Linked DNA regions of Homo sapiens. The protein of the gene in region 2 purifies or fractionates together with the protein of the main gene of each other region. This does not show direct contact. Each region holds a gene or a part of one and is shown on either strand. Other genes may lie near its edges. The genes, in order: PRMT3, GFPT1 and CARS1.

Region 1 (3,654 bases), on a different chromosome or scaffold from region 2:
TGCAGTATAAGGCAAACTGTAATATACTATCGTAACTAACATAACAGAATGTATAATAAACACATTTGCTCATCAAATATTGTATTGTATTGTATCCTATGGGCCAGGTTACTGCTCTGGGCACTGAGAGTATAGTGGTGAACAAGACAGGCATACAGGAATAAATAAGAAAACAGTTGAATTGGTCTGTGAAGGGGTATCATAAGTATCTGGAAATCAACTGATAAAGTTATATTTAGAAATATTCTAATTAACCACGTGGTTTTTATGATAATCTGTGGCTGAGTACTACATTGTTTTATAATTCTATTTGGCAGAATTATTACTAGTATTTTGATTCTCTCTTGGTATCTAAATTGCAGTGAACCTCAGGGTTAAATATTGAGTTTGGTTTGGACCTAATCCATATTAACCCTACCAGATCAATAAAATGTCACATTTTTAACAAAAGTAGCAGAGTACACAAATTAGCTTTACCATGATTTTTCAAAAAATCAGTGTCCTGTTTTTTACACTTTCTAAGCTTAATGTAATGCCAGCTTTAAAAAGTGATTAAGTCCAGCTAGTTCCAATAGTGAAAGAAAATGGAATGGTATTTAAATTTAACCAAAAAACTCAAAATTATGTATTTATCTGAGTATGTTAATTTCTTTAAGAGATCTTTTGTAGGCTGGGTGCAGTGGCTCACACCTCTAATCCTAGCACTTTGGGAAGCCGAAGTGGGTGAGTCGCAAGGTCAGGAGTTCGAGACCAGCCTGACCAACATGGTGAAACCCCATCTCTACTAAAAATATAAAAATTAGCCGGGTGTGGTGGCGCACGCCTGTAGTCCCATCTACTCAGCCTTGCCTGACCAACACGGTGAAACCCCGTCTCTACTAAAAATATAAAAGCCAGGTGTGGTGGCGCACGCCTGTGGTCCCATCTACTCAGGAGGCTGAGGCAGGAGAATCGCTTGAACCCAGGAGGCGGAGGTTGCAATGAGCTGAGATCCCTCTGGGCAACAGAGCAAGACTCCATGTCAAAAAAAAAAAAATCTTTTTGTACTATCACAATAACCCTTAGAGCTCACTTTGGAGTTTCTCCTTTGAGTACTTGCTTAAACATAAGATTTGAGTACTACTGTTCATTTTTTCAGGAAAAAAAAAATAAGTAACATTTTAAAAATCTTTATTTCATCACAAAAATATTCATAGTACTTAAAAACAGATATACTGGACTAGAAGAAATTAAATGAACTGGCTTTGTATAAATAGGATGTTTTAATTATTTATTGCTATGTAATAGCCCATCTCAGAACTCTGGCTTGAAGCCCAAACCATTTTTATCTGTTTGTTTCCGATTCTGCAATCCTGACTGGACTTAACTGAGTAGTGCACTTGCTGGTCCTTCCTGGCATCTTTCATGCCGCTGCAGTTGTCTGAACACTTGACTACAGCTGGAGAAGTCAAGATAGCCTAATGCGTGGGTGGACATCTCAGTTGGCGAGTGAGGATCAGTGAGGGGCCAGCTGAGTCTCTCTCTCCATGTGTGTTCACCTTTCAGTGGTCTAGCATGATTATTTCTCTAATAAAATGTACTAATTATTTGATTAGCCTTATTACCTTTATTATGTTGTTTCTGTGAGGAAAAGCCAAATTACATTACTTCGTTTTTACTTACAACATCTTTTCCAGGAAAAATATTGAGTTTAAGAGGTATTTAGTCTCTGAAATGGTTTATCATTTGCCATGTCTTAAGAGACAGTAATGAGTTATTATATTATGTAATTCATTTAGTAAGCATTTATATTTCTTTTTTTAAAAAACAGGCAATTGCTGGCTACTTTGATATATATTTTGAGAAGAATTGCCACAACAGGGTAAGTATCATGAATTATCTCATAAGAATTAATTATTACAGAAGTACATTATATTTTATTTTGTGCCCCAAGGTGTTTAATCATAAGCATTTTGCTGCTGTAAGCAATTGGGGCTTGTGTTTGATGTCGTAGATTAATGTACCATGATATTAAAAATCTTGTACTTCATCAAATACCTTTGAACTTTACCAATTCAGGTCGTGTTCTCTACGGGCCCTCAGAGCACCAAAACACACTGGAAACAAACAGTATTTCTACTGGAAAAACCATTTTCAGTTAAAGCAGGTGAGAAAGAATAGTAGGGGGGAAGTATCTTATTCATTCTGAAGTAAATGATATTCATTCATTTTACAGCCACTTTTTATGTGCACACTATATTTGTTTTTTGAGACGGAGTCTCGCTGTCTCACCCAGGCTGGAGAACAGTGATCTCGGCTCACTGCAACCTCCATCCCCTGGGTTCAAGCAGTTCTCCTGCCTCAGCCTCCCAAGTACTTGGGATTACAGGCACACACCACCACACCCAGCTAATGTTTGTATTTTTAGTAGAGATGGGGTTTCACCATGTTGGTCCCCAACTCCTGACCTCAAGTGATCCACCTGCCTCGGCCCCCCCAAAGTGCTGGGATTGCAGGTGTGAGCCACTGCGCCTGGCCTGCACAATATATTTGAAGCAATATAACAGATGTTAAGAAAAGATATTCTTAGAGCTTACCATCTACATAAATTTTAGATGGCATATCATTTAATTAAAGACATAATTTAAGAAAAATTTTTAAGTCTAATTTCTGCCAACTAAAATAAATAAGACTACCTGGCTCTTAAAGTATCACAAAATAATTCAGAAAACTTTCGGCAATAATTAGTATTTAATAAGTTACAAATATAACTAAAAATATTTTCTTTCTCCAAGTGACTGAAGAGAAATATTACCAATAAAATAAAAGTTAAAGACAATTTCATTCAGTAGTTATTGTAGGCCAGGCACAGTGGCTTATGCCTGTAATAAGCCACTTTGGGAGGCTGAGGCAGGAGGATAACTTGAGGCCAGTTTTGGGTTTTGTTTTTTCTTTTTTGAGACGGAGTTCCACTCTTGTTGCCCAGACTGGAGTGCAGTGGCACCATCTCAGCTCACTGCAACCTCCACCTCCTGGGTTCAAGCAATTCTCCTGCCTCAGTCTCCCAAGTAGCTGGCACCACCACGCCCAGCTAATTTTTGTATTTTTAGTAGAGATGGGGTTTCACCACGTTGGCTAGGCTGGTCTCAAACTCCTGACCTCAGACGATCTGCCCATCTCGGCCTTCCAAAGTGCTGGGATTACAGACATGAGCCACCGCACCCAGCCGAGGCCAGTTTAAACCAGCCCAAGCAACATAGCAAGACCCTATCTCTACAAAACAATAAAAATTATCTGGGCATAGTGACAAAAGCCTGTAGTCTTAGCTGCTTGGAGGCTGAGGCAGGAGGCTTGCTTGAGTCTGCAGGGAGCTATGATGATACCACTGCACTCCAGCCTGGGTGACACAGCAAGACCATGTCTCAAAAAAAGAGAAAAAGTTATTGCATTCAAAATATATTTGTCTTAGCATTCTCTCCACTGTCTCTTCCCTGCCTATCCAAATCTTATGCAGTATTCAAGGGCTAATCAGATTCTATTTTTTATTTTAAAAACTCATTGATTGTTCACTTACATTAGCACCTATAGTTCTGACATACCTATATATTTCACTCTAAAAGTTAGAATTTGATTATGGAATTTAAAAATTTAAACTGCTTACTACATATAAGTCTT
Region 2 (3,654 bases):
AGTAATAATTTCTTAATGGAGCTTTTCTGGCCAGATCTTCAGGGCTATAGGAGAGTGTGTTTGTTTTTGGTGAAGTCCTTCTTTTTCAAAGGTTTTTACTTTTAAATTGTGAAGATAAGCTATTTAGCACAATTATTTAAGTAAGCTGTTTTTTCCTTTCTTTTCTTTCTTTTCTTGTTTTAACTTCTGGGTGAGGTTAAGATTTTCTAATAGTTATTGTTGTTGCCAGAGAAGCATAGAATTCTGCTTGTGTCTTAGGGTTAGAGAAAGATTTGTTATATTTTGAGGTAATTTGGAAGGACTTTCATACATGGTGACTAGAAACCTGATCTTTTTAAGAATAAAATAGGGTCACTATTTACATTATATATAATATATGGCTATTATAGCTATATTAATCTACTTTAATTGTTTCTAAGATTATTTTGTGTAAGTCAGCTAGCGTGTGTATAGTGTCATTTCTTATGTTTTGTATATTAACGTTTTACAAACACAATTTGTGTGGGTTTGTAGCATTTCTTATAGTTTAAAGTATGATTCAGCATTCTAAGTTAAAACTAATATGTGAAGTCAGTCATTAGTCTGCATAATCTCTGTCTCCCTCTGTGTGTGTCTTTCTATAAAGCACATGTGTACACACACACACACAAATATACTGAAAGCTAGGGTAAGTTCTAAACTGAATATCAAAAACCAAAATCAAGAACAAAGAAGTGATATTTTCCAAACAAACATGGATTCTCTGCCGGGTGCAGTGGCTCAGCCTGTAATACCAGCCTCCACTTTGGGAGTCTGAGGTGGGAGTATTGCTTGAGCTCAAGAGTTGGAGAACAGCCTGGGCAACATGGTGAGACCTGGTCTTTACAAAAATTTTTTTGGCCGGACGCAGTGGCTCACACCTGTAATCCCAGCACTTTGGGAGGCCGAGGCAGGTTGATCATGAGGTCAAGAGATCGAGACCATCCTGGCCAACATGGTGAAACCCCGTCTTTACTAAAAATACAAAAATTAGCTGGGAGTGGTGGCGTGCGCCTGTAGTCCCAACTACTTGGGAGGCTGAGGCAGGAGAATCGCTTGAACCCAGGAGGCGGAGGTTGCAGTGAGGCGAGATCACGCCACTACACTCCAGCCTGGCGACAGAGCAAGACTCTCTCAAAAAAAAAAAAAAAAAATTTTTTTTTTAAATGGGCTGGGCATGGTGGCTTGTGCCTGTAGTCTCAGCAACTTGGGAGGCTTAAGTAGTAGGATCGCTTGAGCCTGGGAGGTTGAGGCTGCAGTGAGCTGTGATTGTGCCACTGTGCTTCAGCTTGAGTGACAGAGTGAGACCCTCCTGACTCAAAACAAAAAACATGGTTTCTCCTCTCTCTCCTGTCTTCTTACTCTCTATCCCATTTGATGTAGTGATTTTTAAATGCTTTTGTAAGTTAATTCTTAACACAAAAGAGACATTGTAATGAGGCACACCACTAAAGTGAGCATGCCCAATTAAAACCAGTGTAATATAGGATAAGAAAATCTGATTTTTCAAAAAAGATACTCTACATAAAGAATCCTTCATATAAAAAGTTCTTTCTTGTAGTACATTTAAAGTTTTAATTCACTCATGTATAACTGAGAGTTCCTTTGAGCCCTTTTTAGGCAGGGAGGCATGTCTGTCATCTAGCGTGTGGCCCAGTAAGTGATTATTACATTGGAATCAGTTTTTCAGTCTTTTAAAATAAATTCTGTGCCATAAGAATAAAAGATAAAGAGAAAAATTAATGTTAACTATTTTTAGCTTATTATAACTATGTCAACAAGTGTTTATTAATACCTATTATGGGAAAGTCACTGTGGTTGGCATTGAAAATTACATCATCTTTAAAGCAGTATTTGTCCCCAGATGGACTCATCACTAGCAAAGACTAGGTTCATTGGAAGGCATAGGGTGAGAGAATGGGAAGATGAAGTGGAGGCGGGTTGTTAAAGTGCTGTCAGTGAGTGATTTTGTCTACTTGAATAATGGTCCATGTTTGGGGGCATATTGTGTTTCATAAGAAGTGAAAGGTATTTGCAAAGTAAGCTACAAATGACCCATAAATCTGTTAACAACAGTCCTTAATATGCAAAGATGAAAAACAAGCATTACTGCTACCCAAAGGGAACTGGTGCTTGGTGATGTGCAGATGGGGCTGTTGGTTAAGAGAGCTATTACAGGTTTTCTCTCTTAGGTTTCATAGGAGGTAGTTACTGAGATGAGATTGTTTTATCTTTTTGAATACAGATCTCTTGTCTTGAGTTAGTTCTGAGGATGGGAGTAATAAAGGAGTTTTTTGTTTTTTTGTTTGTTTGTTTGTTTTGGCTCCTTAGTAATACTCCTCTGACATTTATTTCTATTATTCTTCAAAGAAAGGAAACCAACTGAAATGTTTGCTTTAACAAACATTTTAATAAGTTCTCTGGGTTTTTTTTTCCCCTTTTAAAAAAATTAGCATATACCATAGCAATAAAAGAACTAATGTTAACTATTGTATGCTACAACTTAAGTGATTTTTCTAAAGAAGCACAATGTCATTGAAAGTATTATTGAAAAGGATCATAGTCACATTGAATTTGTGAAGGCCAAAGAAATTGAAGGGAGTGATATTTTCATTTTATGATATTCACATATTTAGTAAATTTTGTGTACAAGAATACCAGGCAGAGTGTTTTACCCATGGAAACAGGTTTCAGATTACTTTATTTTTACTGTTAGAGTCTCAAGTTTAGAAATGCTAACACTTAAATCAGTTTTTTTCTCACTATACTTGAAGATTGTTAATATTTTGATATCTTCCTAGCTTGATGAATTTAAACATATCTTCAGATCTGTGACAGTGACAGCCAATAGGACTGATAATATTAGCTTCAAACCAATAATATCCAGGGTTAAAATAAAAATCATAGTGAAAGTACGATTGTAAAATTATGCTATATTAACTTTTAAGTCTGTAATAACTTGACATCAAAATGTTATGTAATTACCATAAATAATGGCTAGCGAGAACATCTTTGGAAATTCTCAAATTACCTTTCTTACTACACTGTTTGCAGAATGAATGTAGAAATGATCCTGTTAGCTTTCTGAATGTTCTGTGGTTGAATGTGTTTTTGCTTAAATAAAGCTTTTGGTATTTGTTTAAATTACACTTCTTGAGAAGTGGAAATTTTAGGATCATCTTTGCTTTGTTTCAGTTTTGTGATTTTTGAAATGAATGTTTAGTTTACTGAGCCAGTTGGTCATTTCTTCCTCATGTCGTTAAGTCCAGTGAGTAAGCCTGAACTGTGAATAAATTACCAAAAACTTGCTTAGAATTTCATTTTGAAGCAATTTGCTAATATTTGAAGTGTATACACATTTGTAGTTATGTTAGAAATTGTATTGTACTAAGAATGTAATCAATGTCTACTTTAGTTGTAAACATTTCTGATGTCAAAACTTTATTCATTACTGTTGATTTTAAGAATAAGAAATCACTGCCTAAATATTACCAAAAGCCACTGTCTCTACCCGAACTTCCCAGTTTGGGAAAGAATCGTTAGATAAAACAAAGGCTCTGCCCTTTCTGATACCAAACTCCACAGATACTTTCTCACATCTTTTAAAACATTTTGCAATAACATATTGTTTATAGG
Region 3 (3,654 bases), on a different chromosome or scaffold from region 2:
AGTTGGGGCGTGTCTCATGCCTAGAGTGTGTGTGGTCAGGACCTGGTTCACATAGGTGCCATGTTTTGCTGGGATTGGTGGTTTTTACTCCCATTCCATGGTGTGTCAAGTGGGGATGGCATCTTCAGTCAATGGCGTCAGGGAGATGGGGCTTTTGAGACCTCTGGGACCAGTGCCCTGCCTATCTCTCCTAACCTCTGGCTGTGTCCGTCATGAATCTTTTCCTGAATGCACCAAGGGGTTGTGCTGTAGGTGACACACTGTGTGCTCCTGCCCAGCCTCTGCCCATAACCCTGCCCTGCACGGCCCAGGTAGGCTGCACATGCTCACCAGGCCCACCTCGGCCCTCCCACCTCTTTTTGCCTCTGCACCCACAGTCCCCTTGGCTTTGCTCCTCTGAGTTCATGTGAGACCTGCCCATTTGTAGAGTCTTGTATTTGTCCCTGCCGAGCCAGTTGTGTAAGCATCACAGTCTCCCTAGGAGACGGTGGCTCTTCACAGGTCAAGGTCAGCACCTTTGAATTCAGGGCACTGATGGGCTCACACCAGCTGCACGAGATGTTCTCATGTGAAGTGTGTGGCCCGCTGCTGGATTTTTGTTTCTTTCTCTTCAGGTGTTGCTGGAAGAAGCCAAGGATTTGCTCTCTGACTGGCTGGATTCTACACTTGGCTGTGATGTCACTGACAATTCCATCTTCTCCAAGCTGCCCAAGTTCTGGGAGGGGGACTTCCACAGAGACATGGAAGCTCTGAATGTAAGTGTCACGATTGTCTTGTGCTGGCTCTCTTGCGCTAAGGGCCCTGATTTCTAAATTCCTGTTTTGGCAAGGCCAGCTCAATTAAGCGGCCAAGTCAACATTGAACTTGAGTTGAGGGGCATAATGGGCTTTTCGTTTTATGAATTGGGAACGTTTTTATGGAGCGCGTGGTTTTCAGAAGGGAAAATCCCAGGACATTCTCATGTCTTGCACAGGTTCTCCCTCCAGATGTCTTAACCCGGGTTAGTGAGTATGTGCCAGAAATTGTGAACTTTGTCCAGAAGATTGTGGACAACGGTTACGGGTAAGCACAAGGGCCTTCCCTAGGGAGGGAAGGGCTGCAGAACATCGCACAGGGAGGAGCTCCCCAGCTCTGAGCCTGAGTTTGGGAAGCAGAGGAGCAGGTGTTCTGGGGCTGCGTAGCTAGAAGTCCCAGCAGACTTCCTCCTACAACTCTGGGCCCACCCAGGGGCTGAGGAGCATGGGTCTGCACTGTCCTGGGGGCCATGGTGAGAACCTAACCCAGAATCTGCTGGGAAGCTCGGCAGCCAAGACCATCAGTCATGGGGCCCCAGAGCTGCATAATGGTGAGTGCGAATACTGCTGGGCCTTCACAGACATCAGTGCCATTGCGTAGACATTTTGAGAGTGCTAGTCCTGGTGTCATATCCCGAAGGAGGATGCATTTCATCAGCATCTATCGCTTGGCTATGATTTTAGTGACTTTTTGTTGGCAAATCCATCATACACTTCCCTGGCCCGTATTGTCTCAATCTCCAAAGTAAGCATTTTCAGAAATGGCCAACAAATGGAAATGCAGACAGGAACCCGGTTATCTGTCTGTAGTGTGTAGGGACCAGCCCCACAGGGTCGGTGGGTTTTTCTCCCCATGTGTGGAGATGAGAGATTGTAGAAATAAAGACACAAGACAAAGAGATAAAAGAGAAGACAGCTGGGCCCGGGGGACCACTACCACCAAGACGCGGAGACCGGTAGTGGCCCCGAATGCCAGGCTGCACTGATATTTATTGGATACAAGACAAAGGGGTAGGTTAAGGAGAGTGAGCCATCTTCAATGATAGGTAAGGCCACGTGGGTCACGTGTCCACTGGACAGGGGGCCCTTCCCTGCCTGGCAGCCAAGGCAGAGAGAGAGAGGAGACAGAGAGAGGCAGCTTACGCCATTATTTCTGCATATCAGAGACTTTTAGTACTTTCACTAATTTGCTACTGCTATCTAGAAGGTAGAGCCAGGTGTACAGGATGGAACATGAAGGAGGACTAGGAGCGTGACCGCTGAAGCACAGCATCACAGGGAGACGGTTAGGCCTCCGGATAACTGCGGGCGAGCCTGACTCATGTCAGGCCCTCCACAAGAGGTGGAGGAGCAGAGTCTTCTCCAGACTCCCGCGGGGCAAGGGAGACTCCCTTTCCCGGTCTGCTAAGTAGCGGGTGTTTTTCCTTGACACTTACGCTACCGCTAGACCACAGTCCGCTTGGCAACGGGCATCCTCCCAGACGCTGGCGTTACCACTAGACCAAGGAACCCTTCTGGTGGCCGTGTCCGGGCATAACAGGAGGTTCACACTCTTGTCTTCTGGTCACTCCTCACTATGTCCCCTCAGCTGCTATCTCTGTATGGCCTGGTTTTTCCTAGATTATGATTATAGAGCGAGGATTATTATAATATTGGAATAAAGAGTAATTGCTACAAACTAATGATTAATGATATTCATATATAATCATATCTAAGATCTATATCTGGTATAACTATTCTTATTTTATATTTTATTATACTGGAACAGCTCGTGCCCTCGGTCTCTTGCCTCGGCACCTGGGTGGCTTGCCGCCCACAGTAGTGCTCAGCACTGTACCGTGCGCCTGCTCCCAGAGACCCACTGTGTCCAGCCTCAGATTGCTTCCCTCCCACAGGAACCACACAGGCTGGATGAAAGAGAAACAAGAGGTTGTGACAGTGCCAGGAACGGGGCAGACTCTTAAGCAGTAGCGCTGCTTCTCTCCCCACTTCACACAAACTACTGTGGGGCAGCATAAGAGCCTGTGCCAAGCCGAGAGGCATGGGCAAGCCGAAGCTCAGAGAGGACAGGTCATTCCAGACTGGAGTAATCTAGAGTGCTTCTTGGAGGCCAAGAGCCTCAGCTAAGCTAATGGGTAGAGTGTGGACATTCAGGGAAAGGTGAGGCCACACAAGAATGAGGACGGCAGCAGCCCTGAGCAAGGCAGGGTGGGAGCTGCATGGGTCACAGGACGCCAGGCAGAGGGACGAGCTGCCCAGGGCAGGCAGGCTGCCTCCGCAGCGGGATGGGCCCTGGTGTCCCACTCAGTCCAAACAGCTGATACGGTTTTCAGTGGCCACCACAGAGAGTAGATAGGCCACAGATTTCGCACTTTTATAGCCCTGCTTTATTTTGTTACTGTCATCCTGCTGACACACTTTCGGGTCTGTTAGATGCACCCACCCAATTCCTTTTCTGTTTTCCAGCTATGTCTCCAATGGGTCTGTCTACTTTGATACAGCGAAGTTTGCTTCTAGCGAGAAGCACTCCTATGGGAAGCTGGTGCCTGAGGCCGTTGGAGATCAGAAAGCCCTTCAAGAAGGGGAAGGTGAGGAGGGCATGCCTGAGAGCATGTGGGCTCTCCCTCCTGGCCCAGCCTGGGTTGTGTTGACTTTGCAGGCCACGGGGGCTGCGCTGAGCCCACCCCTCAGACTCTTGGGAACAGTGCTTTTTCACCTGAAGGAATTTTAGGAGTTTTCTGCACTCAACATTGTGCAGCTCTAAGACCATGACATGTGTTTTTTTAATGGATATATAATAATTATGCAATTTATGGGGAACATGTGATGTCTTAATACATGCACACCGTGTGTGATGATC

The links.
Region 1: the proteins of GFPT1 (region 2) and PRMT3 fractionate together in Homo sapiens (co-fractionation; one large-scale study listed by BioGRID). This does not show direct contact.
Region 3: the proteins of GFPT1 (region 2) and CARS1 fractionate together in Homo sapiens (co-fractionation; one large-scale study listed by BioGRID). This does not show direct contact.

Annotation. Positions count from the first base shown.
Region 1 is NC_000011.10:20,492,109-20,495,762, forward strand, and holds part of PRMT3 (protein arginine N-methyltransferase 3), read left to right. Parts: intron 1-1,810; coding exon 1,811-1,861; intron 1,862-2,058; coding exon 2,059-2,146; intron 2,147-3,654. UniProt on the Homo sapiens protein: Protein-arginine N-methyltransferase that catalyzes both the monomethylation and asymmetric dimethylation of the guanidino nitrogens of arginine residues in target proteins, and therefore falls into the group of type I methyltransferases.
Region 2 is NC_000002.12:69,321,197-69,324,850, reverse strand, and holds part of GFPT1 (glutamine--fructose-6-phosphate aminotransferase [isomerizing] 1), read left to right. Parts: 3' UTR 1-3,654.
Region 3 is NC_000011.10:3,026,404-3,030,057, reverse strand, and holds part of CARS1 (cysteine--tRNA ligase, cytoplasmic), read left to right. Parts: exon of another isoform or gene 1-614; coding exon 615-755; intron 756-973; coding exon 974-1,062; intron 1,063-3,260; coding exon 3,261-3,382; intron 3,383-3,654. UniProt on the Homo sapiens protein: Catalyzes the ATP-dependent ligation of cysteine to tRNA(Cys).